3 separate regions of the Homo sapiens genome follow, and all the other regions are linked to region 1. The links come from fine-mapping of genetic effects on gene expression. A gene starts in region 1. Each other region holds a variant in brackets. All regions are shown on one strand. Distances are between the middles of the regions.

Region 1 (10,147 bases):
GGGTGGGTGCTGATGACGTCTGGTGGGTAAATGCCAGGAGTGGTGTTAAACATCCGGCAAGGCCCGGGACAGCCCCCGCCACAAAGAATAATTCAGCTCAAAGTGTCACCACTGCTGTGGTTGAGAAACCTGCTGTGAAAAATGCCAGGAGGGAGGAGAAAGGAGCCCCTTAACTTCAGTGCCTTATGTCCATGGGACACTGACACCCCCAGGCAGAAGCAGCCACTTCACTTGGCAGGGCGGCACAAAATGAAAATGTTGCAATTCTTGTGAAAAATGATTTAAAATTTCAAGACAGCAACAGCAGACCATTAAACAAGGGCCTGTGGGACTGGCCAGGACACCCACCTAGGAAGCTGGAAAGAGCTCTCTGCTGGTCCCTGGGATCCCCTGGGTGCCCTGTCCTCAGCTCTCAGGCTTGTAGTCACACGACTCCTCCAAAGAGTTCAGGCCAGAACACTGAGACGGCAGTGCCTGCTGAGAATCTGAAGTGGCAGACTCACCTTTCCTTTATGGAGGAAAAAATCTCACTTTTGACTGTCAGGGAATGAAGGGACAGGACTCAGAGGACTGTCTAGGAGGTCCTGAGTCCTCCCCCGTCCTACTGCTTCTTGGGAGGGTCAATATGCCACGAGGGTTTTCAAGCACAAAGTAATTAAGAGGAGGAGCAGAAAGCTTCCAGTCTCCAAGCTGGTAGCCCCCAGGGCTGAATCTGTGGTTTTCTGTTTGCTGTGACACTTCATCTGTAGAGGGCCGCTCTGGGAAAGAGCGGTGCATACTGGGCTCCATCTGAGGAACAGATCCTGGAAATGACCTTCTCTCCTTGTCTCTCCCTGTCTCTCCCACACCCCCTCAATAAGCAGCCTCCTGCCATTTATTTCAATGATATTGCTTTTGTTTTGTTTCATTTTTCTTAAGCATTTTATTTTTATTTTTATTTTTGAGAGGGAGTCTTCCTCCGTCACCCAGGCTGGAGTGCAGTGGCATGATTTTGGCTCACTGCAACTCTGCCTCCCAGGTTCAAGCGATTCTCCTGCCTCAGCCTCTGGAGCAGCTGAGATTACAGGCACACACCACCACACCTGGATAATTTTTGTATTTTAGTAGAGACCCGTTTTTGTCATGTTGGCCAGGCTGGTCTCGAACTCCTGGCTTTAAGTGATCTGCCCGCCTCGGCCTCCCAAAGTGCTGGGATTACAGGCGTGAGCCACTGTGCCCAGCCTTGAGCATTTTACAGTTAGATTGTTCTTCAGGGTTGAGGGTGTTTTTGCAAACCATCTCACATGCCTTTGAGAAGATCGGAGGGAGGGCTGCAGGGGTGTGAGTGGTAGCCCAGGTGGACAGGAGCAGCCACGAGGGGCCCACCGTGAATCAGATCGTCTGTGGAACAGGAGAGAAGGGCCCTGCCACCTGCTCAGGCAGCCCCCACAGCAGATAGTTGTAGATTTCCAGAGCTTCAGCTTCCCTTTCAAGAGTGGAGGGGAAAAAAAGCAAGAGGAAGGCCTGGGGGCTAGGGCAACCCACCCACCAGACAATGATCACAGACCAGCCACCATCAGCCACAAATTCTGCAGCTCAGGTCTAATAGTAATCACTGGTGCTGTAAACATTTAAGCACCTACTGCCTTCTGGTACGCATATGGGCATCAGCATGGTAAGTAGCGAAGAGCATGGATGGACCCTTGAACCAGACTCCAGCTTGAATTCCAACTGCCACTTAATGGCTGTATAACCTTAATCTCTCTGTGACTTAGTTTCCTTGTGTATAAAGTGTGGGACCTACCTCATCGGGGTCACTATCCATAGCTTAATTTTTATAAAGTGCTTAGGAAAGTATTTGACACGTGGTAAGCACTAATATAAAGAGGTGTAAAGAAAAATCATGCCTATAATCCTAGCACTTTGGGAGGCTGAGGTGGGTGGATCACTTGAGGTCAGGAGTTCAAAATCAGCCTGGCCAACATGAAGAAACCCCGTCTCTACTAAAAATAGAAAAAAATTAGCTGGGCGTGATGGTGCACACCTGTAATCCCTGCTACTCAGGAGGCTGAGGCAGGAGAATTGCTTAAACCCGGGAGGCAGAGGTTGCAGTGAGCTATCGCACCACTGCACTCCAGCCTGGGCAACAGAGCGAGACTCTGACTCAAAAGAAAGACAAAAATTAAATTACCAGATTTAATCCCCATGGTAACCCTAAGAGGTAGGGACTGTTATCGTCCACATTAATAGACAGGACACTTGGAACACAGAGAGGCTGAGACCCAGGTCCAGAGTCACACAGCTCGTCTGAGGCAGAGCCTGGATTCAAATCCAAGCAGTCTGGCTTTCTGTAGGACTGTGTCCTCTCTCCAAGGGGAGGATGGAGCTTGACCACCTGTGTTCAGGTCCTGGCTTACCCATCAATTAGCTTGGGCTCCAATATCCTCCTCTGAAGTCAAGGAGGTTCCCCAGATGTCGTGGATGACTCCCATGAGTGGCTCTTAGAGGCCAGGAGGCCTGGGTGTCTAGTCAGTGTCCTGGCCTCAGTCCTGGCCTCTGGGACAAGGGAATTGTGGATAGGGGAGCAGCTGTCCCTGAGCAGGGTGGATGGATGTGGCAGTTTCCAGCCCAGCTCACTGCACCCGCTGTCAGCCGTTATTGAAACACATAGCCAGGGCTGGGTAACAAGACGGCCACAGAAATGATCTGAAGTGGATTTAATCATTGCCCTGGTCCCTGCCAACTCTTGTCCACTTAGGGGTTTTGCCTGTCTCGCTCGGACTTGACAGTCTGGACACTCAAGGTGATGAGCTGCCCAGAGCACCCAAGACCCAGACTCCACCCAGGACTGTCCTCTCCTGGACCACCTGCCTGAAACTTCCATCCTGACCCTTCTCCACCTTCTCAATGGGACCTGGGGTGAGAGCCCAAGCTGGGAGCGCCGGCCTGGCATTGTGTAGTTTAGACAAGTCCTTGAAGCAGGGCAGGTGGGGGAATGGGGAGGAGTCGGGGGCTCAGGCCCCCATGTTCCTCCCCAGCACAGCCTCACCTGCTCTGCCTCAGAGTGACTCAGGACAAAATCCCCAGGTGGCTCTGATGGTACTTGAAGTGACAGAGGGAAGGAGGAATCTGGAATGGAGACCCCAGCCCCAGGCCCTTGAGCTCAACCCAGCACCAGCCCCCAGACCTGTTCACTCTTTGGCCTTCCAGGGCCAGCCCCAGGCTGGGCTGTCACTGATGTGGGTGAGCAGGAGTGGTCCCCGTTCCTCACAGGGGCTTCTCTCTATGCACACCTCACATCATCCCCCGACCTCCAGGCATAAACCAGCCTTGCAGCCCTGACTCCAGACCTGTCCAGAGAAAGTGCCACCTGCCTGGGGAGCTGATGCAGATGAGAGGGAAGGAGAGAGAGACAGTGTCCCCTGCACCATGCCCTGAACTTCCCAAGGGACCTTCATCAAGCTCCCCTGGGGGCTGTATTGTTAAAATGCACAGATTCTTGGACCTCGACTCTGGACTTCCAGAAGCGAAATCTCTGCGGGGGTGGAGGAATTGGGCACTGATTCTAATGAAGTCCCCAGGGCAATCTCACCTGCTTTAGAGCAGAGGTTGGTACCCTGGCTGCACATCAGAGTCTCATGGGAAATCTAAACACATCCGTTCCAGGGCCTCACCCCCAGACCAAGCAGACCAGTGTCAGGGCTGGACATCAGGCATTCGTATTTTGTAAAAAATGATTAAAATGTGCACCCAGGGTTGAGAACTGCTTCAGAATTTGCAGACCTCCAGCTGGGTCTGACCCAGGAAAACAGGAAACAAGAGAGATGGTGTCAGCTGGGGCCCTTCACTGGTGGGGCCAGGTGGGTGGGGGGAACATCCCCACGATCCAGGCGACCCCCACCGCTGGCCAGGCAACCTCATGGCTGAAGGCGAGGAGGGACGCAGGCACGAGGGCCTTGGCGTAAGGAAGCTGGCTCTGCAGTCAGGCCCTGCCCTGGGGCTGTTCAGATGCCCAGGAGGGCAGGTTTATGCGAATGAAGCAATTACAGAACCATTTAAAAGAGTGAGGGAACTTGGTCCAGAAATGCCTGTGGAGCTTTCAAAAGGGGTGAGTGACCTCATCCAGCCAAGAAAGGGTCTGGGAGAGAAGCTGGAGGCCGAGGTCTTCAGTCTAGGCTAGGGGAGGGGAGAGAACGTTTAAGAGGGTGGCAGGCATTCCTGTCCCAAGTCACCAACTGGGTAGCGCTCTTGTTTGTCTTATGCAAGAGTGTTTAGATAAGAACAGGCTTTTGCATTTCAAAAAGGAGCCTGTTCTTCCTCGCCTTGCTTCTTCCTGTGCTGAGTAAACGGAAGGCACACCCTTGTTTCCCTCCCTATTCACAGCTCCTCTGTCCGCCACAAAGACAACCTCCTCCCCTTCTGCCCTCGTCTTCTGCCTGTGGACATTCAAGGGACCCCGCTCCTCCTTCATCCTTTCTCTCCTGCACGAATGAATCGTTTCCCGTGAATCTGCTCTTTGAAAAACCCCTTCCTAACTTCCATCTCTCTTCCTCTGCTCTCTTTGATGCCATCGCTTCTTAAAAGGGAGGCCTAGACTCACTGCTGTCTCACTTTTGTACGTTTATTTTCATCATGGTAAAATATACATAGCATAATATTTACCATTTGAGCCCTTTTAAGGTGTACAATTCAGTGGCATTTACATTCAAAACATTGTGCAACCATCCTGATGATCTATTTCCAGAGCTTTTTTTTTTTTTTTTAAATCATCCCAAACAAATTCTGGAACTGTGAGATAATAATGTCCCATTCTTTTCTCCTCCCAGTTCCTGGTAACCTCCATTCTTTCTGTCTCTATGAATTTGCCTATTGTAGAAACCTCGTGTAAGTGACATCATTCCATATGGGGCCTTTGTGTCTGGCTTATTTCACCTAACATCATGTTGCAGCAAGGTTCATTTCATTTCTTTTTATGGCTGAATAATATTCCCTCGTACAGATGGACAGCAGGTGTTGACCTATTCATCGGTTGTCTATTCGGCCTCCACAATCCACTGTTTTCATCCCTTCTTGCTGTCTCTACTTCTATGACCCTGGCCTAAGTCACCATTTTCTTCCACCAGAGTGCTCAGTGGCCTCCTCTGAGATTTCACTCTTTTTTTTTTCTTTTAAACAGCGTTATTGAAATGTAATTCATATATTATGTAATTCTCCCATTTAAAGTGGACAATTCAGGCTACTCTGCCTATGGAGTGGCCATGCTTTTGTTTCTTTACTTCTCTAATAAGCTTGCTTTCACTTAAAAAAAAAAAGTATACAATTCAATGGTTGCTAGTATATTCCATGTAGCTGCAATCGTCACCGTGGTCCATTTTACAGCATTTGTATCACCTCAAAAAGAAGCTCTGACCCTTCAGCTATCTCCCCTCCCCAACGCTCACCCTTACAGCCCTAGGCAACTAGTAATCTACTTTCTGTCTCTAGAGATTTGCCTCTTCTGGGCATTTTGTCTAAATGGAATCATACAATCCGTGGTCTTTTGTGAATGGCTTCCTTCACTTATCGTGATGGTTCCCGGGTTCATTCATGCTGTCCTATCGGCACTTCATTCCTTTCTATGGCCAAATAACTACCTCATTGTATGGATTCATTGGTGGACATTTATGTCGTTTCTATCTTTGGGCTATTACAAATAATGCTGCTTTAAACATTTTGTACAGGTTTCTGTATGAATATATGTTTTCGTTTCTCGTGGGTCTATACAGAGGAGTGGAACTGTGGGTCACACGGTAACTCTGTGTAATCGTTTGAGGACCTGCAGGCCACAGTGGCTGTCCTGCCTCCTCTCTTGCCTCTTTCAAAACTCCTCTTCACAGAGCAGCTGATGCGATCTTTCAAAAATGAACTTCAAATCATGTTTCATCTTTCTTGTAAAATCCTTCAATGACTTCCCAGCGTTCTTAGAATAAAACAAACATCATCACCATGGTCTACAAGACCCTGTGGCTGGGCACCAACTCCTTCTGGGACCATCCCTGCCTGCCTGTAGGGCTCCCGCTCCTTTGGGCGTCCCGGCCGCTGCTCCAGCAGGCCTAGGAACTTTCTCGTGAAGTCATCTGCGCTGGCTCCTCCCTCTGCTGGAACAGTCTTCGCTCTTGTTTCAGCCTCCTGTGGACGCTGTAACCAATTGCCATCAACTGGGTGCCTTCAAACAACAGAAATGGCTTCTCTCATCATTGTGGAGGCCCAGCTCTAAAGTCAAGGTCTTGCCAGGGGCCTGTTCCCTCTGAAGGCTGTGGGAGAGCATCCTCTTTGCCTCTTCCAGCTGCAGGTGGTTACCACCAATCCTCCGGGTTCCCTGGCTTGTAGCTGCATCGCTGCAGCCTCTGCCACTGTTGTCACGAGGCCATCTCCCTCTGCGTGTCTGTGCTTTCACTGTCTTTCCTCTGTGCATGGCTGTGTCTCTTCTCCCTTCATATGAGGACACAAATCATATTGGGTTAAGGGCCCATCTTACTCTAGTATGACCTCACATTAACTACATCTGCAATGATCCTATTTGCACATAAGATCATATTCTGGCAGGGCATGGTGGCACACGCTGCAATCCCTGCACTTTGGGAGGTCAAGGTGGGAGGATTGCTTGAGGCCAGGATTCAAGACCAGCCTGGGCAACACACTAAGACCCTGATTCTTTAAAAAAAAAAAAAAAAAAAAAAAATTCTGAGGTTCCTGGAGAAAATATGAATGGTGGTGGGGGCAGGGGAGGGCACTATTCAACCCTGTATAGCACAGTTCCTCATGTCCCAGCTCAGATTTCAACTCCTTCTCACCCACTATCCCCACCCCAGCTCCCCTCTCCCAGGGCACCTTTCTGGTTTCTTTTTGGCACCTTCACAAGCTGTAAGTAGGTGTTGTTGTTGGTTATTCATCCATTTCCCCTACTGGGTGAAAGCTCCCTGAAGGCTGCTCCTTGTCTATCAAGCTCATCACTCTGCCACTGTGATCCACTGCCTGATGCAGGGTGACTCTTCAGCAACGTGGAAGGAGACAGGGAAGATCCTGGTCCTGCAAGAGGAAGCCTGGACACAAGGTGTGCATGGGCCCCGAGCAGTCCACCAACACACGCTGTGGCGTGTATCAGCACTTCCTTCCTTTACATGGACAAATGCGATCCCATCATATGGACACACACACTCCGTTTATCCATTCACCAGTTGATGGACATTGGCATCGTTTCCATCTTTTAAAAAGAACATATAGTTGTACATATTTATGGGGTATAGTGTGATGTGTCCACACATGTATAGCTTGTGTAAGGATCAAATCAGGGTAATTAGCAAATTCATCACCTCCAATATTTGTCATGTCTTTGCGGTGAGCACATTCGAAGTCCTCTCTTCTAGGTATTTTGAAATATTCCGTACATTAGTATTAACAATAGCCACTCTTCTGTGCCAGAGAAGAACAGAATGTTTTCCTCCCATCTAATTGTATGTTGTTTTCATCATGGTGTCCACCGTGAGGCCTTGGCCTTTGGCGTACCAGTCACTGAGTGCTCAGTGGGTGACTCCAGCCCATCTCAACAACGTTGGTGACAGTGTCAGCTCTCAAGGGCAGGATTCAGTCATCCAACCCACTTTGCACCTCCAAGCATCGATGACAGGTGGGTATTCAGAAAACGTGCTGAAAACTTCATGGAAGCTACAGCTCGACTCCCAAGAGAGAAGCCTGTCTTTGAAGTGCCTGTGGAATGAGAATGACCTTCCTCTGTCAAACTTCCTTTCCAGTATGATGTTTTAGTCAATCCAGAGATGTATTCCTTCCTGTGCATTGGGGATGGACTTGCATCTGGGGAGGGTGTCTGGGGTCAGATCATCCCAGGCCACTAGGACCTGAGGTGTTGAAAATCCTGGAGGATCACTGCTGTACCCAGTGCATTGACGGCCCCACTCTCCTGGCCGTCTGCCTTCTACAGCCTCTGCTGAGATGAAGGCAATTTGGCTGGATGTGGTGAGGAATCTGTACAGGGAAGAGAGGCTGTTGCAGAGGAGGCAGCTGTAGGAGCGTCAGCACCCAGGAACGCACTCTCTGGAGCCTGGTGCAGAAATAGCACCCACTGCGTGTGGTGAGTGTCTGGTGTCTGGCATTCTGTGATGCTCTTCGGTTTTAAGACACCTGCCAGGAACAAAGTGGGGACTGGTAAACCAAGGTGCAAGATTGCAAAAGAGGCTCTACTTCCCCCTGCCTTCCTGTATTCTCATCCTTTGCAATATGACTTTGCATCTTCCCCCATCAAGAGCTGGAGTCTATTTCCCTCCCATATTAGCTTCCTAGGGCTGCTGTAGCAAATTGCCATAAAGCAGGTGGCTGAAACAACAGAATAAGTCCAAAGTCAAGTTGTTGGAAGGGCCATGCTCTCTCTGAAGGCTCTAGGGGAGAATCCACTCCAGATCTCTCTCCTGGTGTCAATCCTTGGACTTGCTTGGCTTGTAGCTCCATCACTCCAATCTCTGCCTCTGACTTTGTGTGTCTTTCTCACTGTGTCTCTCTGTCTCTGTGTCTTCCTCTCTTCTTACAAGGATGCCGGTCATTGGATTTGGAGCCCACTCTAAATCTAGGATGTTTGCACCTGGAGATCCCTAATTATTTACATCTGCAAAGACCCTATTTCCAAGGAAAGTCACATTCTGAGGTTCCAGATGGACACGCATTTTTTGGGGACACTATTCAAACTACTACACCACCCCTTGAATCTGAACTGGCCATTTGTCTTGCTGTGGTCAACAGAAGCTGGTAGAAGTGACAATGTGTCCACTCTAAGGCCATGAAGCCTCCACTCTTGACCGTGGAACACTAAGACCACCTGTGAACAAGCCTGAACTAGCCCATGGCCCAGCTAGGCCAACCAGCCTCCAGCCCACCCAGCAGTTGTGCAGATGAATGCAGCTGAGCTCAGTGAAGCTCAGTAGAACATCTCAGACCAGCTGAGTCCACTGTAAATTGGCAAACCACAGAATTGAGACTGAGTATATGGTTGTTGTTTGAGGCCACACCAAGTTTAGGGTTATTTGTTACACAGTAGTCGATGACTGATTCACAAGGTGTTATTGGTTTAGGGCAAATGGGAGATGAGTGCCATTTCTGGGTGCTGCCCACGTATAACAAAAACCAAAGTCTTGGCTGGGCGCAGTGGCTCACACCTGTAATCCCAGCACTTTGGGAGTCCGAGGTGGGAGGATCACGAGGTCAGGAATTCGAGACCAGCCTGGCTAAGATGGTGAAACGCTGTCTCTACTAAAAATACAAAAATTAGCTGGGCATGGTTGCAGGCACCTGTAGTACCAGCTGCTCGGGAGGCTGAGGCAGAAGTTTGAACCTGGGAAGTGAAGGTTGCAGTGAGCCGAGATAGTGCAATTGCACTCCAGCCTGGGTGACAGGGTGAGACTCCATCTCAAAAAAATAAAAAAATAAATAAATAAAATAAAATAAAAAACTAAAGGCTTGGATCTAAACCATCTACTAGTGGCAGGAAGTCTAGGCATCTTCTGAGCCACCCTCAGGATCAAATAAAGCTACTGGCTGGGTGTGGTGGTTCACGTCTGTAATCCCAGCACTTTGCGAGGCCGAGGCGGATGGATCATGAGGTCAGGAGTTCAAGACCAGCCTGGCCAAGATGGTGAAACCCCGTCTCTACTAAAAATACAAGAAATTAGCTGGGCATGGTGGCAGGCGCCTGTAATCCCAGCTACCTGGGAGGCTGAGACAGGAGAATCACTTGAACCCAGGGGGCAGAGGTTGCAGTGAGCCAAGATGGTGCCACTGCACTCAAGCCTGGGCGACAGAGTGAGACTCTGTCTCTAAAAATAATAATAATAATAATAATAATAATAATAATAATAATAATAATAATAAAGCTACTGAATCCCTTCACCAATGGAGGCACGCTCATATACCTCTTGGCATCTCTCTACAGTCCCCTTAATGTGCAGCCATGCACACAGTGGTGCCTATTAAAGGCATGGAGGTGGTGGTGGAGAACATGACAGAAGCTAGGTTCGTAGCCCATTAGAGTCATGAAAAAAAATGAGTAATTCCCAGCTTCTTCCGCTCACTGCCTCTCCATCTTCTGGAGCATGACAAGAGGCATATTCCTCCTGTGACTCGC
Region 2 (10,147 bases), 68 kb before region 1:
TAGGATCTCAAAACTTCCTGGGCTCCTGTCCTGTTTGGGGTTAAGGGACTTGATGAGACAATGCTGAAGGAACCCTACAGCTGACTTTGTGGAGCTTGTCTCCCATGCCAAGCTCTTGCCTTAGCTATCCGCTTTAGTGCTCACAGCAATTCTATGATTCAAGAATTGCTTTACTACCCCATTTTGCAGAGGAGAAGACAGAGCATAAAGAGGTTAAACCATGCCTATGGTCACCCCTATCGGTGAAGCTGAGATTTGAAGTGGCGTTTGGACCCCAGAGCTGAGCTGATTATCACCATGACATTCAACCTTCCAGAATCCTGCAGACCCTCAATAGGGTGCCCTGCCCTCCTGTCCATGCCTGGGCCTTCCAGGACTAGCAGAGTGGTGTAGGACATTCAGGGATGGGCCAGGGCATCCTTGTACGTGGCCCCTCCCTAGGTCACCCCCAATCCCTGCTCTGGTTGGCTCCACACTTTTACATGAAGCCCCGCTGCTCCCAGATGGGGGATTAGACCAGGGGCTCCTGTTCAGCTTTTCATGCAGGAAGACTACTGAGCAGGGGCTGGCTGTGGAAGAGGGGAAAGTTGCCACCCTTGTCTAAAATTGCCGCTGCGGGATGGAGAGGAAGATTCCTGCATACCCAAGGAGAGGTTGAGGCTCCAGGGAGAAGGAGGGAGCAGCGCTGCCTGAGCACATGCCCCCAGCGTGTGGGCTGCTGGGCAGATGCCAGCATCCCCATCATTTAGGGCCTGAATAAACAGCCTTGTTTTACTCTGCTCTTTGCTGAGCAAAACAGGGCTCCAAACCCCTCCTGGCCATCCTCAAATCTCTTCCATTTTCCAAATCCTCAAACGCTTGAGGCTGTATCTCTTTGGCCTGTCCACCATAGAAAACAAGAGGCTGGTCCCTTCCCAGGCGAGGAGAGCCTCCCTCCCGGTGCTCCTGCGGTCGCCACACGTCTCCGTGGCTGACTCTTTATAGCAAGGTGCAGACACCAGGGATGGGGGTTCAGATGTGTGCACAGCAGGGTCTTTGGGGTCAGGGAGCTCTTCAGGGCAGGCAGAGCACATTCTCAGGCCATTAGCTGGTTGGGCCAGAGTTCACCTGCCACCACCCTGCCCCCAGACCAGCATCACGGCAGGGTCCCTGGTCCCTCAGAGACCCCTTGAGAGAGCAATCCCCACCACGGTCCAGGAGGTAGCTGCAAACCTGGAAAAACAGGACAGACTCCAGGAGAAGCACATAAGCCAATTAAGAGCCCAGGCTGGCCCGGCGGCTCCAGTAGCACCTGCTCTCATCTTGTGAGGTGCATGCGGCTTGGGCTGCTGGGAAGGTACAGTGCGGCCTAATTACACACTCCTCCGTGACAGGCGGTGTCAAAAGATTAAAGGAATCAAACCAAGTGGCTCTCCAGTGGCCCCTCCCCCAGGAACCAGAGCTGCTGCGTGAAGGTGATTATGGTACCAACGTAGTGGTTAGAAAGATAATTTTCTCTGGGCCCTGTGCCTGCCGCCTCCTCCACTGAGCTGCGCTTCGGCACTGCGACTCGGCCACCTTGTCTGGGCTTCACAGATTCCTTTTCTTTTTTGTTGGCACAGCTGAGCAGAAGGAAACAAACTAAGCAGCTCTCCCTCCACCAGCCTCCCACCCCACCACCCACGGGCCTCTCCTCCTCTTCCCTCTCCTCCCCTTCCCCTACCTTCCCCTCCCCTCCCCTTCCCTCTCTTCCTCTTCCCCTCCCCTCCCTTCCCTTCCCCTCCCCTCCCCTCCCTTCCCCTCCCTTCCCCTTCCCCTCCTCTCCCCTTCCATCCCCTCCCCTCTCTTCCCTTTCTCACCCCTCCCTTCCCCTTCTCTCCCCTCCCTTCCCCTTCTCTCCCCTCCCCTCCCTTCCCTTCCCCTCCTCTTCTTTCTTTCTTCTCCTCTCTCTCCTCTCTCTTCTCTGTCTCCTCTCTCTCTTCTTTCTCTCTCTCCTTTCTCTCCTCTCTCTCTCTCTTTGCTTCCCATTCTGTTTTTCTTCCTAGTCATCTCCATTCTGTTCTGCCCCTTTCACCTCCTGTTTGGTCTCTGCATCTCTTTTCCTTCCCCTCCTTAAAGACCTGTCAGAGTTCAAGGATAAGGAAGCCACTGTGGGCTGCTTCCTGTTTTTTTGTTTTTGTTTTTTTTTTGTTTTTTTTCTTTTCTTTTTTCCGCTCTGATGGTCTTTAAAATAATAACAGCAATAATCATGACCAATAACCGTCCTCGCCTCTTGCCAGCCCGTGTAGATGGCTTCCCTTGCATCACTTATGATACGTTATCAGATAAGGAAAGGGAGGACCAGGGGCTCTGCACTTGCCTCAGGGTTTGTGGCTGGTGAAGGCTGGAACCAAGGCTGTGAGCTCTGCCTGTTGACTGCAGAGAAGCTACCGACCTACTCAGGCCTGGGGAAGGAGGAGGGAGGGATGGTGGGAGAGGAATATTTGAAAGCAAGATGGGGGCGAGGCATGATGGCTCATTCCTATAATCCCAGCACTAAGGGAGGCTGAGACAGGAGGATTGCCTGAGGCCAGGAGTTCAAGACCAGCCTGGCCAACATAGGAGACCCCGTCTCTACCAGAAAAAAAAAAAAAAGAGAGAGAAAAAAAAAAATTAGCCAGGTGTGGTGGCACATACCCGTAGTCTCAGCTACTTGGGAGGCTGAGGTGGGAGGATTACTTGAGCCTAGGAGTTTGAGACCAGCCCAAGCAACATAGTGAGACCCCATCTCTACAAAAAAAAAAAAAAAAAAAAAAAAAAAAAAAAAACGAAACAGGAGGACCACCTGAGCCCAGGAGGTTGAGACGGCAGTGAGCTGTGAGCTGTGCCATTGCACTCCAGCCTGGGTGACAGAGCAAGACCCTGCCTAAAAAAAAAAAAAAAGGCAAGATAAGAAGGCACCTCTGCAAGTATCTCCTCCAGGCAGAGAGGACTGAGTATCAGTGAGGGAGGGGAGCAGGGTACCGGGACCCCCACTCCAGACTCTGCCATGCCTCTGCCCAACTTTGCTGCAGTGACTTTGGGCAAGCATCCCTGATTTACCCGGCTATGGGCTGTCACCCCTGAGGAGGGAATGCCATGTCCCTCAGGTGAGCAGAGGAAGGGTTGAGAGCTGGTCGGAACCTTCAGTATGCAGGGAGGGGCTGGAGCTCCTGGAAGACATGTGACTTGCCTAAGGTTATTCGCAGGATGGGCCCAGAGCTCCACTCTCCTGCCCTTCAGCCTGAGAGTCCTCATTCACTTCTCTGCACCTTCAGTATCTGCAGGGTCTTTGCCAAAACCCAAACCTCCACAGGGGTCCTCTCACATCCTTTCCATGATGACACGGTGACCATCTGTGAGTGGGAGGAAAGACGCCCGGAGGGGTTGGTGGAAGTGGGCGCTCCCTCACAATGACTTCTGCTTCTGAGGGTGTGAAGACACAGCTTGGGATTTCAGGCGGAGGGTTTGCTAATGTCACTACAGCACACACCTGCTGGGAATGGTATCTTGGCGGGGGAAGGGGCACGGAGCGGAAGAGGGGGATGCAAAACCCACCTCTTTCTGGTCTCTTCCCTCCCATTTCCATCCTACTGCACTTGGAAACAGAGCATCAGGGAGGGATTAGGGATTTAAAAAGTGGCCGTTAGAGGAAGGCAAGAGTGGCCCGCACCAGCTACTGTGGAGTGTCTCCATTACCATAATAACTAACCACTTAATAACTGGCTTCCCCACTAATTCTAATTGAAACACATAATGATATTTCCGGGCCGAGAGTGGCAAGCTCAAGTCTCGGCAGACATCTCCAGGCGCACCCCCCCAGCTTCACGTGGCGAAAACTGTGGGCTCTCCTTGGGTATTCTGTTGGAATAGATTCGGGCAGCCGACACCAGCTCTTGTACGGCTGCCAGGAACCACAGCTGATGATAAAAGCCATTAAAGGTCAGCTGGGAATAGAAAACCATTTATGTTAAATGTCACAGATTAAGCCGCAGAGTGGGCCTTGGGCAGGGAGCAAAGGGTGAGATGCGAAATGCTGGTCACTGTGCTGCCTCTGTAAGGTCTGGGGCAGTGGGGGGGATTGAAGGGTGGAGGTGAAGCCAGGGGCAGGGGAGCACTTGAGTTCCTGCTCCCTCCAGCCTGGGGAGGCAGGTGGATGCTGGCAGCCACAGGTGATTAGGTGATTGGCCAGGCTGGCCGCCCTGAGGTTGCTAGGCGACCTGAGGGCAAGGTGTGGGGAGAGGATGGAGTGGGTCTGTGTGGCATCATCGCAGAAGGGGACCCGGGCGGTCTCTAGAAGGGCCAATGAGATGGAGGCTGCTTCCACTTACAGAGGGACCCTTGCAGGCTCTTTTTCTGGAGTGTGGTCAGCGGGACAGTGTGGGTGTGCCTAATCATGACTGAGGATGAGTGTGACACAAGTCAACTGCTCACTGCAGCCACAGCCAGGAAGTCACAGAGAAACAAACACCACGCCCCCTTCACTACCTTCCAATGGCCTCGGAAGCTGCAGTTTGAAGGACACAGGAGGGGCTCAAGTGGGAGGGGTTTCAGGGCTCAGAGGAGCCTGGGCCAGGCCCTAAAGGGTGGCTCCAAGAGAACTGGGGACTCTGGTTCTATCGCCGCCTCAAAAGTGCCTGTGCTCCTTAAACCTGAACCTGAGTATCCGGCAAGAGCCCCTCTGTGCATCTCTGCTCCGTCCTTTGGCAAAACTCACCTGAGAAGCCGGTTTGTTGACAGGTCTGAGAAACCCCCTGGAAGTTAATTAGATCACTCAGATCCCACTGAAACAATGACTACCATCCTTGGTGACCTACCTGGGGAGTGGTTCACTTTTGCTGGTTGAGCCAGAGACTTCGTTTCCGTGCTTCTCCACCTCCCACCTTGCCTCCAGATTGCCGAGCTGTTGCTGTGTGCACAGGGAATGAAGGCTCATTTTAATATTGGTGCAAGCAGACATCATTGGGAAGGTAAATCTAGTGGGAGAGGGGAGCAGGCAAAATGAATATCACCCCAAGCCCTGTCCTGCAGCCTTAAGTCCAGTCACAGGAGGGTAGTTTGAAGCAGGGGCATGTTTCCTCTGGGAATTGGGAATCATTCATACCATTGGATGGGGCCTGAAGGAGATACTGAGGTTGTCTCCCCCGAAACCCCTGGGATGGAGAACAGATCTCCACCAGCGCAAGGGGTCCCGGGAAGGCCCTCACCTTCACTCTTCCTATGAGTTGTTTGACAGCAGAATGACTGGGCTGGAAGTGACCTGGCCTAGAAGCACTCACAGGAATACGATGGGATGGAGGGAGATCCCAGGAGGCCCTGAGGGTCCAGCCAGTGGGTGCTGTGTCAAGATGGTAGGATGAGTGGGCTTGGTAGGATGGCTGGGGGTGAGGCTGGGATGTTGATAGACACTAGGAAGATTTATATTGATTTCTGCCATCAATAGATTCGTATTGGCAACTACTCTGCACCGGCCCAGTGGCTGGCACTGGAAATATAATGCTAAGTAAGACCATTATCCTTTCTTCTAGAACCTCACTGAGAATAGGGAAGATCAATATGTTCCCGAGTAATTATGGTACATTAAAACTATCTCTAGGAGAGAGGCAGTGCAAGGGACTCAGAGCACCTAGAAGAGCAACCAGGAAGATGGGGAAGGCTTCAGAAAGGCAACATTGGAACCACCGGGCCTTCCATAGTCGAAAGGAGAAGGCTGGAGAGGAAAGTGTGGGCAAGATGGTAAAGAGCCTTGGATACTGTTCTTAAGAAGAGAGTTGAAAGTTAATTCTGAAGGCAAGAGAGAGGTATGTGCTGTTTTGGGGCAGGAGAATGAGAGGGCTTGTCCTGGATTTTAGAAAGAACACTCTAGAAGCTACAGGGAGGATGTGCCAGACACAGAGGTTCTCAACCTTGACTGCATCAAAATCATTTGGAGGGCTGGTGGAAACACGGATCACTGGTCCCTGCAGCCCAAGAGTTTTTAATTCAGCAAGGCTG[G/C]GCTGTGGCCAGAGAATTTGTATTCCTAACAAGCTCCCACGTGCTGCTGCTTTGGGTCCTGGGACCACAGTTTGAGAACCACTGTGTTGGAGAGAGGATCTGTGCAGGATCTGGAAGCAAGGAGAGCAGGTAGAAAGAAATGGGAATAAAATGAGAGATGATGAGGAGACTGGCTTGAGAGACCACTGAGGTCTCGGGGCAGGCAGATGGCGTGGTGCAGATGGGGAGAGGCAGGGCTCAGATGCAGGGAGTGGGTAGCAGAATCATGATATGGCTTTGGAGGGGCTGAAGCAGCAGAAGATGGTCAGGACAAGGAAGTGCAAAGCCAGGAAATGGGAACAGGATCCCAGGCAGGGCTGAGGTCCCAAGGGAGCAAGGACAGAGCCAGAGACTGGGGCTGGGGTCAGAGTTCCAACTCATTTGGCTGAGGAGGTGAGCAGTGGGCCAAGACTCCTACACTCTCTGCTTTTAGGCAATTAGGCCTCATTTCTGGGAGAAAAACACAGCTACAAATGGGCCTGGTTTTGCAGGTCAGGAGCACACAAGGGCGTGAATCCCACAGAGCAGGCCCAGAAATAGCGTGGGAGAGACTCTGATTCACTGTGTGCAGTGAGGTGCCAGCCTAGTTAAAGCACCCTGTCGGCCAGGCGCGGTGGCTCATGCCTGTAATCCCAGCCTTGGGGAGGCCAAGGCAGGCGGATCACCTGAGGTCAGGAGTTTGAGACCAGCCTGGCCAACATGGTGAAACCCCGTCTCTACTAAAAATACAAAAATTAGCCGGGCATGGTGGTGGGTGCCTGTAATCGGGAGGCTGAGGCAGGAGAATTGCTTGAACCAGGAAGTTGGAGGTTGCAGTGATCCAAGATCACGCCACTGCACTGCAGCCTGGGCAACAGAGCAAGACTCTGTCTCAAAAAAAAAAAAAAAAAAAAGGGCACCCTGTTGCTGGCCCCTAAGTGGCAGCCCACCCAGCCTGGGAGAACCCAGTCAGACAGGCTTTGTTCAAGACTTAAGCCCCAGTGACACAAGCGCCGCTCAGACCTCTCTTTTAGTCCCAAGGCCTGGCTGCTGGTCCAATTGCCTGTGGGAGGGAGACATCTCCCGGGAAGAGTGAAGAATCCAGCCACAAGCAGAGCAGCTGGAAGTTGATTCCATTTCTTTTCAGCAGCCTAGGAGCAGGCAAGGGGACTGGAAGGGGAGTGGGTGAGCAGACAGACCCCAGGAAGGGGTGCTCCTGAGGTTTTCAGCTAACAGAGCCCAGATGGATGTCTCCACCAACTTCCTGGTGCTGGGACAACCTTCATCTCTGCCTCTGTCCCCAAGGCTGTGTCCCTGTGTCTTAGCCCTGACGTCTCTTCTCCCGTGGTGGTCTTGCCAGTCTCATCCACTCAGTGGTTTATTTAAAGTACACAAAACATCAGACCATGATTTAAAGGAAGCTGGTATCTAGACTTTACACCACTTAGTTATGTTTTAAGCAGGAGGCCCTGAGGGTCCAGGCAGTGGGCGCTGTGTCAAGATGGTAGGGTGGGTGGGCTTGGTAGGATGGCTGGGGGTGAGGGTGGGACATTGATAGACACCAGGAAAAGTTATATTGGTTTCTGCCGTCAATAGATACGTATTGGCAACTACTCTGCACTGGCCCAGTGGTTGGCACTGGAAATATAATGCTAAATAAGACTATTATCTTTGCCTCTAGAACCTCACTGCGAATAAGGAAGATCAATATGTTCCCGAGTAATTATAATACATTAAAACTATCTCTAGGAGAGAGGCAGTGCAAGGGACTCAGAGCACCTAGAAGAGCAACCAGGAGGATGGCGAAGGCTTCAATGGGATCTGAGTGATCTAATTAACTTCCGGAGGATTTTTCAGACCTGTCAACAAACTGGCTTCTCAGGCTAGATGTGGCCCTGACTCTAGGGCCTCATATAAAGTTTTATTACCCACTTCACAGTGGAATAAGTTCGCTGCTGGGCCTGATGTCTGTCTGTCCATCTGCCAGTCAAGAATACGTGCAGGCACTGCTCTGCCGGATCTCCTGCCCATCTCCCTCCCAGAGTTCTCACCCAAGCACGGTTATTCCTGGTTAACCTTCCTGAGCATCTGGCTCTCCTAGGATCCAGGTCTTGAATTGTTCCTGCTTCCAGACTCTCTGAACCCATGGCCCCAAGCTCCCTTGCACCTGTTCTGCTCCACTTTCCTGCTCATGGCCACTACCGGGATTTCTATCCCCTCCCTGCCCCCGGGTTGCCACCTCTGCTCCACCTTTGGCAGCTGGCCTGATGGGTACCTGCACCATCTCTCCTGATACCAATATCAGCATGGGCATCTTGTCTCCAATGCCTGATCACAGTTTATGGACCACTCCTTCTAGACTGAGGTTTCTCTTCGGCCCATGGTGATGTTATAGGAGGCTGTTTGGGCTCCCAGGGGAAAAGGGAGCGTCTCTGGATGGGTGGCCTTGTGTAGAGGAGAGCTGACAGGCAGGAGGCAGCCTGGAAGGAGGAGAGGGAAGACACTGGATGACAGGGATGCTGGGGAAGGGGGCTCTCCAGCACCCACTGTGGGTAGCCTGGAGGATGGTCGGTCCCCTCCAGGATAATGTTCATTGCAGGCCAGGGCTGCCAGGATAGCTAGGCAGGACAAAGGGTTGCCACGGGTGGGCAGGGGTGGGTGGGGTGGGGTCGGCTCACCCTGGCCAGCATCTGCCTCTGTCGGGGCAGCAGGGAAGCCAGGAACCCTGTGGCTTTCCACTGTCTTCTCTTTGACTCTTCAGAAGAGGCACAATCCCAAGGGAAGATAGGATTGTAACAAGTTTGGAGGGGAAAAGGGAAGAGAAACCCTAAAACCTTCCTACCAGGACTCTCCTCTGAGATCCAAAACACACTCCCAGAAGCTGACACCCATAAGCACTGACTATGGACCAGACTCAGCTTCACCCCATGATCCCTGGGCCCTGCCACCATGACCCTGAGAGGAAGGAACCATTATGATGATCAATTTGGAAATGAGAAAATGGAAACTCAGAGAGTTGAATACCTGGTCTAAGATCATATAGCAAGAATTTGGGCCAGAACTGCCTGCCCCCATGGCCCATATTTGCAACTGTGACAGCCTCACAGCTAAGCACAATCATTTCTCGGAGCTCCCTGGGCCTTGGTGGAGCCGGGCTGCTCACAGAGATCATCCCCCAAGGCGCCGAGAACCACCTAAGCCCAATCATTCCAGCTGCATCCCAATAGTTAGCCTTTGACGGGGTCAGCAAACTTTGGCTCCAGGGCCACATATAAAGTGTTATTGGAATGCAGCTTTGCTTGTGCATTTCAGTATCGTTTGTGACTGCTCATGCTACATTGGCCTCATTGAGTAGCTGAAACAAATGCCTAACATGTTTGCTCTCAGGCTCTTTCCAGAACGTGTGTTATCGTAGCTCAGGCTGCTATAACAAAATATCATAGACTGGGGGGCTTAACAGACATTTGTTCCTCACAGTTTGGAGGATGTAAGTCCGAGCTCAGGGTGCCAGCATGGTTGGGTTCTGGTAAGGGATCTTTTCCTGGCGTGCCGGCTGCTGACTTTTTACTGTATCCTCATGTGGCACAAAGAAGCAGCCTTGTTCTCTTCCTCTTCTCCAAAAAACACAAATCTCATCTTGGGGGTCCACCTTCATGACCTGATCTAAGCCTAATCTACTCCCAAAGTCCCCACCTCCAAATACCCCAAATACCATTGCATTCGAGGTTAGGGCTTTAACATACGACTTTTGCGGTGGCACAAGTATTCAGTCCGTAACATATGTCCGCCTCTGGACTTTGATAAAATCACAAGCTCACCAACGTCTAGCAGAGCCCAGCTGCGATGGTGAGGGCCTGTGTGTGTGCATATGCACGGATGTAGTGTTTGTGCGTGTGTGCATGGATGTAGGGGTGTGTGTGTGTCCAAGTGTGTGTGCGAGAGGCCCCTGACATCCCGCTCAGGTTCTCTCCTGCCCTCTCCCTGGAGAAGGAGGAGTAGGTGTTGAGTGGGCAGTGATCTCCTTTCTAAGGGAACTGGGTTTTAGAGGATTTTATAGTCAGAGCAGCACAGTGGCTGCTGCTGCTACCGCTGCTGCTGCTGCTGAAATTTAAGTAATTTTCCCCTAATTAAGCAATTA
Region 3 (10,147 bases), 57 kb before region 1:
CTTGTAGAGCCAGTTTGAGGTGGATATACGGACCAGGCAACCTAACAAGGTGGTTTTGCCCTGGGATTCAAACATAGGAAAACTAGAAGGGGAAAGGAAAGAGGCCCTTATTTTTTGGTGTTAATCATCATTTACTACATGGAGACTTTTTAAAAAAAAAGACTGGGATGTTTCTTGGTTAAATGGTGAAAGGGAAATGAAATTGACAGGGCCCTTAGCTGGCTTGTCCCTGCAGAGACTAGAGCTTCTCTCTTCCAACAGAGTATTGACTCAACCCACACATAGATCTTTCTGTGGGAACTAGGAGAACAGAGATGTCCCCCTGCCTTCCTGATGAGAAACATTGTCAGAGTTACTGGCCTTTGATCCCAGACTAGCAAGCATACCATTGAGTCCAGGTCCCACTGGGACATGAGCAAGGTGGAGATTGTTCAGCCCTGATATAAATGCGGGAGGGGAGCTTCATGGCTCCAGGGTAGTCGTAGACCCCACCACCTACATGAGGGACCCTCTGGAATCACAGGGCATGGTCTAGAAGCCAGACAAAAATCTTCTCTGATGCCTTTCCCTGGGATGGGAGGGGGTTTCAGTAGCTGGAGTCCCCGAACGCTGTGCCCCTTGGCCCAGCCTCTATCAGCACTGGGGTTGACCCACTACTGAAATTCAGTGGGCGTTCCTTCCGCTGCTGCCAATTTCACCACTGTCAAGTGTGGTTACAGGTGCAAGGAGTGGGTGCAGCAGGGGGCAACAACTCCTCAAGGGAGCTTTGGCAGGAGGGGTGCAGCCATGGACCACGATGGGGATTGTGCCTGGCTGGTGAAGACCCAGGGAGTCCCCAGAACAGAGAGCTCTAGGGTGAGACACAGAATCCTCCCAATGCCCCACCTGCCAACCCCCAGATGCAGCTGGGGTTCTAGCTGGCTCCAGGCCCCACGGTGCCCGGAGGGCTACAGTGGATAAAGTCTGCTAAAAGTTACACTGTATTTATTTATTCCCTAGAAGTACAGAGAGACCTGCATAAGAGGAAAGGGCAAGGCATATAGAGACCATAAAAAGAGTTGAGTTTTTATGTAGTGGTAACCTGGGGAATTAATTTCTGGCTAACAGAGGTCGCACGACAATAACTGAGTTTTGAACAAGCACAGTTCAAAACTCCCTGGGGAGGTACGGAGAGGCCACTGAGCCTTGAAGGCAGGATGGAGGTGGGTGGAGTGAGGGGTGGGAGATGGCCAGGGCTGGCCTTGGGGACATGGGTACTAGGACCCAATTTCAAAGCACAGTAAGGCTAATAACTAAATGCTGGTTTCATTCAGTCCACATTTATTGGGCACCTACTGTGTGCCTAAACCTGAGTGAATAACATGGGGATTACAGTGATGGATAAACTGGGGCCCCACTCTCAATACTGTCATTGTCTTTTGGGGGGGTACCAGGAATGATGCTACCTGTGACTGGGCCATCAGGCATGACAGATAGAGCATGACCTGGGAATCAGACCCCATGGGCAGGAATTCTGCTTCTTTACTATAAACTCTGCCACCTTGGCAAGATGCTTAATCTTTCTCCCTCAGTTTCCTCATATAGAAAATAAGAATAATCCTACTTTCTGCCTCTTGAGATTGTGATGAAGATTTATGTGAACAGAAATGGCCTGGCATGTAACACCTTCTATCAGGACACACACTCTGAGAAACAGCTTCACTGAGTTTGAGGCAAAGTATTATGATGGTCCAGAGTGACTCATCCAGTGGAGGGGTCCAGGAAGGCTTCATGGAGGAGGTGACTTCTGATTTAGGTTTTAAAGCATGAATAAGATCTACATGAAGGGAGAAGAGAGGCACAACTTCTAGGCAGGTGCTACAAGCTGTGGCGGGAAGAATAGGAGGGGCCACGTGGCACTGAGTGCTTGATGTCCTGGGGGTGTTCTGGCCAAATTTAGGGAGCCCCCCCTTAAATATATAAGGCTGAGCTCAGGATGGTGGGCAGGCGGTGACCACACGTGGGGAGGAAACCAGAGCACCTGGTACAGTGCCCAGTCCCGGTCTTCTCCAGATACTGATGAAGGGGTGCGGGCATATTTTGGCTGAAGGCAGCAGCCCTAAGCTCCGGAAGACACCACATTCACCAAGTCAGAACCCTCGGGATGGGAGCCAAAGAATGTTTTCTAGCACTCAGTGAGAGAACAGGCCCGGGCTACCTGATTGAAAGACACCGCAACCCACACGTGTAGCCTTACATTTTCCAGCAGCCACATTAAAAAAAAGTGAAAAGAAACAGGTGAGATTGCTCACAATAGCATACGTCATTTAACCCAATATATGAAAAATGCCATGATTTCCATGCATAATAAATATAAAAGAATTATTTATGAGATATCTTGCCATCTCTTTTTCATACTGGGTCCTAAAAGTCCTGTGTGTATCCCACACTTCAGGCACCTCACTAGCCCAGTGTCCAGTGATCAATAGCCACATGTGGCTCAGGGCTGTCATATCCAACAGCACAGTGATGAAATCACAGTGAAACTTCTCCACTCTCCAGTCCAGAGACGGCCATCTCCCCATGGCCTCCGCAGGGCATTCTCCAAACTCACACATCTGGAGCCAATGCCCACGGGCTCCTGGCTGGTCATTCTGTGTTGTCTGATACTGTTCATGTTGGTGACCTTAGTGCTGGCCAGGGAGGGAGTCTGGCTCTCTTCTATTGGAGGTAATTGTGGAGTGGGGTGGCTGTGGGGCCTCAGAACACCTTGGAGCTCTCAAAGACCCTCTCACATCTTGGCCATTCCCACTTCCAGGACCAAAGCAATGATTCTGGGAATCAGCTGGGGCCACCACTGGAATAGAATGAGGCGATGGGGAGAGCCCAAGTTGGGAAAATGGAATCTTTGGTGACTGTGGGGGATGTGAGAGCCACAGACAGGAGATCACGGGTGCCTCTGCCTGCCACATATTTGAAAATGCACAAAGCAAGAGCCTCCCCTCTCCCCAGCACACGCAGGCACAGGGAAGTGTGATCATGGAATCAATTTATTTGTCTACTAATGCGCCAGGCACTGTGTTTTATAGGTATGAGCCCATGTCAGCCTCACGACAACCCTTGAGATAGGTCCTATCAGTGCCTCCATTTTAAAGATGAGAAAACAGAGGCACAGAGAGGTGAAGCATCTTGTCCGGAGTCACACAGCTAGTGGGTGGGGTAGCCAGGATTTGGACCTAGGGGGAGCTCCATCCGGGCACCAAGTCCACTGTCCCCTGGAAATCACATCATGACAAGGGGAGAAGGCAGTGGGGAGATGGAAAAGTTGGGAGGCTGTTCAGGAACTGGTGACAAGGAGGGGGAAGGCTGCCATCTGGCACCACCATGCAGGCAGTCCCAGATGGTGGAGAACCCACATCCACTGCCTGGCCGGGCTGGAACAGGATGGGGCGCAGACAGGCAGGTTCTCGGCAGACAGGCTCTGTGAAGAAGGTCTCATGCTTCCCCCATCCCACCCCAAGGGAGTGGCGAGGGAAGGGAAGCCTGTGACCTCATCATCTGGGCCAAGGCCAATGACATCACCAGGAGGGCAAGGAGCCAGGCCCAGCAAGTTATTTATGGAAACGGCTGGCGGCCAGGCACAGCTCCTGAGCTGTTTCAGATGTGGCTGGGATAAAGCCTCCAGCTGGCCCACTGGGGCTGCTGAGGCCAGGCAGGCGGGTGAGGATGAAGGAGGGCTGGAGGAGGGCTGGGGGAGTCAGCCCGCTGATGGGGCAGGGCTCTTCGAAGGCTCACTGGGGTCCCCAGCGGGGATCACTGGGGCACCATGCTTCTCCTTGGCGTCTGCCCATCTGTGTCCTCCCTTGCTCAGGGTGGACCTGTGGTCTCTGCAGCCTGCCATCAGGGTCTGAGTCTGGATGAGCTTAGAAAGAGCAGCATGGAGATTTCAATCACAAGCCACAGCTCATGTGTGCATCTATATTCGTGTGCCTGAGGGGATGTACTGTGTGCATGGCTGTTGTATGTGCGTCCCTGTCAATGGATAGATATACTCTCTGGTCCCTTGTATATTGCTCCCCTGAGTGGTCATAGGGGTAGTTAAGTTTGTGAGTTCATGGATATGGGCATCTCTGCATGAGTGTGTGTGTGTGTGTGTGTGTATGTGTTTGTAGGAGATGGGGAGAAGAGAGAGACAGAGTGCACAAGACCTAGCAAATAGGAAGAGAGGAGTCACGAGGGGAGAGAAATCACTGTAGGAAGTTGGGAAATATAATTTCAGTGGAGGATACAGAGGCACTTATGGAAGCTTCAGCAAAAGTAGACAAACCTTTCAATC[C/T]ATTTATCAAAAATGCCTGCAGCTCTGCCGCCTGAGTAGGTGCAACAAGAATAAAATATTGAGCAGAACCAGTGATTGTGGGACTGGAGGAGGCCAATAAATAAGAAATTACTGAGATGCTCACCCTGAGTCCAATGAGTTTGCTCTGGCACTCCCTCTACTCATCATGCCCTGTGGTCTCTTGGGTGCTGGCTGGGACAAGCTAGCAGGAACCCACGTGGCCAGATCTCTGGCATTTTGACTTTAGGACTTCTGGAAGGATGCCTGGGAGAATCAGGGGGAACAGAGCTGCCAAGCTCCACTCAGGTAAGCTTTGGTGTGGTGGTAACACAGGGGCCCTGCTTCTCATGCCTCTTGGCCTTGCTAGCTGCCCTCCTTCCCTTTAAAATCCTCCATGAGGGAACGAAATCTACAAGACCCTGAATGGAGCTTTGGTGGTTGATCTATGGGCTCTCGATGGAGCAACAGGGGTATGGGAATGGGAGCCAGGTCATGACCAAGGGGCTCCCAAACCTAGACCCCAGCCTGTGCTATCTACAAAGACCTCATCTTGCCTCCCAGATCTTAGGCCTTTTGAGTGATGGGTGGAGGGATGACACCATGAAACCTCCCACTGAATGGGAACCCCATCCTTTGGTACGTCCTCTTTCATGTCATGACCACCCACCCCAGAAAAGAAAACGAGCACTTTTTCAAATGCCCTTAAACTTGAACTCAGGATGAGTTGAAACAGGATGTCTCATTGATTTTTTTTTCACCTCCAAGTCCACAAAAGAGTAATGGGCACAGCTTTCCCCCTCCCCTCCCACACCCTGGCAACTGCCCCTCAACCCCCTGACCGATCACCTGCTTCCCTCACACCCACACAGCACCCCCTCAATAACAGAACTAGAATCGTTGCATCTCAATGCCAAGAACCACAATGGCAGGATAAACTGCCCGGGAGACCCCATCCAGGGCCATGGCTGTGGGAGTCACATTCTCTAACCTTCTCCCAGCTGTGATCAGCAGAATGGGAGAGGTCCAGCTGAGTGGCTCTCTGGGTTGCCAAGCTAAACACCCAGAAGGCAGGAAATAAGATTAACTCTCAGCAGGAAATAGAGGGATAAAGGTTGACTGGGGCAGTGGAGGCGCCAACTGGATGTTCCAAGGGACAAAAAGGAGGACCCTGGCTCTGTGGGAGCAGCCTGAGCTCACAGAATCCACTCCTTCTGCTTTCAGAAACACAGCAGATGGGAACTCCACTTTTTTAGAGTGTTCTGGGGAGGCAAATCCCCTATCTACAAGTTGTTCCTAGTTTCCCTGCCTCATTGCAGAAGGCCTATCTTAGGACCCAAGCAAGATGCAGTGTTGTTAGGCTCTTGGACCTGGAAAAGGTCCTGAGCTCTCCACTGCCCCACTGCCTCCACTGCACTCTCTAGGTATTTGTAACCGAGTATGATTGCATGTATATGGGTCTGCCCAAGCATGGGCACCTGTCCCTTCCAAAGGCACCCTCATCCTTGGGAGGGATGGAGGTGGAACAGCAGGACGAACTTCCCAGCAGTCAATCAATCTAGAATTCTGAAGACAATTTCACCCCCAGACGGCAACAGGATGAGCAGGATCAGGGAGCAGCACTCTTGTTTGCAGGGCTGGTACTCTCTATCACATTTCTAGAGCCTGTGAAATGCCATTCCAGGCTGCTGGTCCAGGACCGTTCTCCTTTCCTTGTTTCTCTAGCCCTGCTTCCATGCTGGACAGGCCTAAGTGTGTAGGGGGCGGTGGTTGAGGAAAGTTGATAGGGCAACCATCCCAGGTGGCTCTTTCCTTTGCCTTTGTAAAATCTGTAAGAAGAGGAAGCAGTCGTTTTCCTGGGGCGCTGGGGTATAGCCCCATAGATTGAAACTATGTGAGGCACAGCACCAAGCAGAAAGACCTGGTTTCCATCCTATCATCTGCGTCCCAGCGGCTCGCATTACTGGCTCCTTTAAAGACTGACATCTGGGCTTTGGCCAGTGCTCAGATTGCAAGAATAAGGAGCTATATCTCTAGTGAGATGGTCGGGGGGTTGTCATTGCACCAGCTTTCAAAGGGCTTTTCACCATTGTCATACTTTTCTTTTTCAGTCTTACTTAAGGAGATGTGTTCAAACAATGATGATGATGATGATATTGCCGTGTGCTTACTCTATGCTAGATGCTTCACTTTTGTTGTTCATTTAATTAGCACAATGATCCAATTAAGTAGGTATTATTATCTCCACTTTTCATATGAGGAAACTGAGGCCGAGAAAGGCTATGTGACTTTCCAATGGCCACGGGTATCCTGAACCCAAACCCAGGGCTGGATGACTACCAAGCCCATGCTATTGCTCGGGCACTTTTCTGCTTCTGCAAGGGAAGTGGTTTCAGGCAGAGAAAGCTAAAAGCTGGCCTGAGTGATTAGCTCTTCTCAGGGTGCAGAAGGCCCAGAACTTCAGGCAGAGGATGCACAGCCAGCGAGTGACTCATCTCGGTTTGCTTGAGACTTTTTAGCACTGAAAGTCTTGCCTTCTGGGAGCCCCATCAGTCTCGGGCACACTGAGATGGTTGGTACCCTAGATGGAGTGCACGCCAAGGACAGTGTGGACCAGGTACAGTGGATGGACCCTGGAGAACCACCTGCTCTGGGTGGTTGAAGGTAGTGGGCTCAAGTCAGTGGGCAGAATGAGATTTGCTGGCAAAGGCTCTTCTTTTTTTTCTTCTTCTTTTTTTTTTTTTTTGAGATGGAGTCTCGCTCTGTCACCCAGGCTGGAGTGCAGTGGCATGATCTCGGCTCACTGTAAGCTCTGCCTCCTGGGTTCACGCCATTCTCCTGCCTCAGCCTCCCGGGTCCACGCCATTCTCCTGCCTCAGCCTCCCAAGTAGCTGGGACTACAGGCGCCTGCCACCATGCCCGGCTAATTTTTTGTATATATATATTTTTAATAGTGATGGGGTTTCACCGTGTTAGCCAGGATGGTCTCAATCTCCTGACCTCGTGATCTGCCCACCTCAGCCTCCCAAAGTGCTGGGATTACAGGCGTGAGCCATCGCGCCCAGCCAAGGCAAAGGCTCTTCTGAGCAGCCAGTCTGTGGATCTGAAGGTCACCAGCTTGATCTACTCCTGTCTCCACTGGAAACAATGTACAAATCCTTCACCACGTTCATACTTGGCTGCAAGCATGCCCTGTGCCCCTGACATTGCTACGCCTGGCCCTGGGGCCCTGGCCCCATCTGAATCTCATTTCCCCTTAGATGGTAAATAAAGAGAATGATGGTTTTCTCAGCCTCTCGTACCACCAACAATCTCCACCCTCTGTCAGTCAAGTCATAGAAGGGTCATGGAAGGGCTGAACATACCAGGAATGTTGCCAGTGCTGGGGGCCCACACTGTCAGATGCAGGGTTCCGGGTCACTGGGGACCCAGCGAGATGGGACAAGGTGAGAAGAAGAGGAAAAGGAGAAAGGCAAAATTCCCAGCCAAAAAAAAAAAAAAGTTCAATCAGATTTGTAAAGGGCACAATTTACAAATCCGTCACATATTTTACTAGGCTGGGATTTACGGATTAGCCTGTAATACTTAGGCGGCTTTTTGTAATAAAACCCTGAGCCGAGGCAGTCTTGGGGAAGTGAGGAGGAGGAAGGAGGCTTCTCTCTCTATCTTGCTTTCATTTTCCCAGCATTTTTTGATCTAGGCAGTCCCATTAATCTGTGCTTTATCTGCCTATGGAGAAGGATTGAGCTCTTTATTGGATTTTTGTCAAGAATAAATGATTTAGTTTGGGATACTGTGGAAACGATTTTTGTGGTATTACACCATCTAATAAATGAAACAGCAGGGATCAATTCCTTTCTTGCAATGTGTTCAACAGGCAGGGTGAAATATGCCCCACAATTATTTGGTATTGCACTCCATAGATATTTATAACCGAGTAGGACTGCATGTATATGGGTCTGCCCAGGCATGGGCACCTGTCCCAGATGATGTGATCCATTAGTCCCAGAGCATGAGACTAGAGACCCAAGTGACAGGTCGGTCAGAAATGCTGACCAGGTTCACTCGAACAGTCAAGGCTGAGGGCTGGAGAGAAGGAATCAGGTTTGAAGGTGAGGGCTGCAGTTGAGAGACTGTATTTACCAAGGCTTGAGTGCTTTTCCTGGAGCTTTGGAAGTGAGAGAAACTAACAGGGTGGGACGTCATTGCCACAGCAGACCTGGCAAATGCCTGGTGCGTGGGGACTCTATGCAGAGAACTGAGGTCCCATCCCCTACCCATCCTGGGTACCCCCGTCCATGTCCCACTGGCCTCTCTCCCTGGACATTGCTTCGAGGGAAAATGTCTGGAAGTTTTTGGAGAAGGGACCTGGCTTTCTGTCCAGGTAGGCTCATAAGGTTTATATCCCTGAAGCCTCACAAATATTTATTGAGAGCCTATTACATGACAGCGCTTAGCACAGGCCTGGCCTGAAGTAAACTGGATATAGATATTTGTTCACAGATTGACAAACAGAAAGCCTTACAAGATGCCCTTCCCAGGCGCAAACCCACGTCACCCTCACAAGCAGAAACAGGGAATAGTAAGGATGAGGGACAGATGGTCGCTAGGAAACTGCAGCCTTCCTCCGATCCCTAACCCCAGGGGTAAAAACAGAATGATCGTGAAGGCAGGGAGCGGGGACAGGTGGTCCTGGGCAGCGTGGCTTATGCCCTGCCCATGGAGATGCCTGTGTTGGAGATGGTTGCTTACCCAGGTTTCACACGCCGGACATCAGCACCTTGGCTCAAATTGTTGAAAACAGTCCCCTTCGGTCTATCAGCGCCATCAGAGACATGTTGGACGTGACACCTTTGTGAGCTTTGTACACCTCAATATTCATCAAATGAAGGCCCGAAGAAATGGATGTCAGTATTAGCAAGATTCTTTCGCCCAGAGCTTCGTGGCGTTGGTATCTCCTTGGCTGGTCTTGCCTCCCAGCTGCATGCTCTGTAAATGTTTGTAGTGAGCGTGAGACACTACAGCTCTCTGTCTCTCTGCCTTAAGCCCACTCTATTTTTATACTATTTGGTATTATCTTTGCTGGCTGTTTTTTCTCTGCCACAATCAGAATTCTTGGGGCTCGGTGCCGACGGGAGGGGTTTTAAGTGTCTTTGGCAGGAAGAATTTCTTCTGTCTGTAGTTCAATCTGAAGTTCATTCACATTCTCCTTGCAAAGAATGGCGGATGCAGTGAGAGTTGCCGTAAAAGCGATGAAAAAGTCATCGGCAATCCTTACCACATCCGTACATCGGCAGCTCGGAGGCTTGACTGCTGGAGCGAGATGTGGCCCAAGACGCCCCGGTGGAGGCTAGGGTCCTCATGGTGCCATTTGCCCCAACTCCCAGGAGGGGCAGGGAGACGATTTCCTCTCAACTTCCCAGGCGGCTTTAGGATGTCAACTTGGGTCTTGGCCTGGAGCCCTTTGGATTCTTTCATGTTTTTCTTGACTTGCTAAGTGTGCTTTCCATCAGTTGGATACGGAATGCATCAAAACAATCATTATTATTTCAACCACAGCCTCCTCTGAAAGCGCTTTTTCTTGGATATAACACCTCTGTCTCAAGGCAGTTATTGCCATTCCAATGTGTTATGCTGTGATTTCATCCTCAGAGGGAGCTGCCACACTCAGAAAGCAAACAGACTCTTCCCACATCTCGGCATAGAGCAACCCTGTCCTTCCAGTTTGTTCTTCGGGCCACACATCTATGAGCCAGGACAGATGCATCTCTTTCTCCCACACTCCACATTCCATCCATTGGGAAATGCTGCCGGCTCTGCTTCAAACTGCCCAGA

Which allele goes with the higher level. Alleles are on the strand shown, and positions count from the first base shown. SD is a standard deviation of normalised expression in the study named. Not every link is listed here.
As copies of T replace C in region 3, the expression in spleen of the gene that starts at base 4,731 in region 1 goes down (moderate effect, 0.45 SD a copy in GTEx).

Evidence for each region.
Region 2: its variant is fine-mapped to the expression of LINC00469 in whole blood (TOPMed, PIP above 0.99).
Region 3: its variant is fine-mapped to the expression of LINC00469 in spleen (GTEx, PIP 0.99).

Annotation. Positions count from the first base shown.
Region 1 is chr17:73,823,807-73,833,953 of GRCh38, forward strand. LINC00469 (long intergenic non-protein coding RNA 469) reads right to left here and starts at 4,731. Exons shown (of 4, transcript NR_027146.1): 1 at 4,642-4,731; 2 at 1-19. RefSeq lists enhancers at 4,068-4,577, 5,568-6,069, 6,070-6,569.
Region 2 is chr17:73,756,121-73,766,267 of GRCh38, forward strand. LINC00469 (long intergenic non-protein coding RNA 469) reads right to left here. Exons shown (of 4, transcript NR_027146.1): 3 at 4,815-4,906. LOC100134391 (a long non-coding RNA gene) reads left to right here. Exons shown (of 6, transcript NR_164140.1): 6 at 190-437. Among named protein-coding and RNA genes, the nearest start is that of LINC02092, 26 kb to the right of the region's middle. The variant G/C (reference allele first, on the strand shown) is at 5,992.
Region 3 is chr17:73,767,134-73,777,280 of GRCh38, forward strand. All of the region lies in intron 2 of LINC00469 (long intergenic non-protein coding RNA 469), which reads right to left. Among named protein-coding and RNA genes, the nearest start is that of LINC02092, 15 kb to the right of the region's middle. RefSeq lists enhancers at 248-748, 3,099-3,600, 3,601-4,100. The variant C/T (reference allele first, on the strand shown) is at 4,316.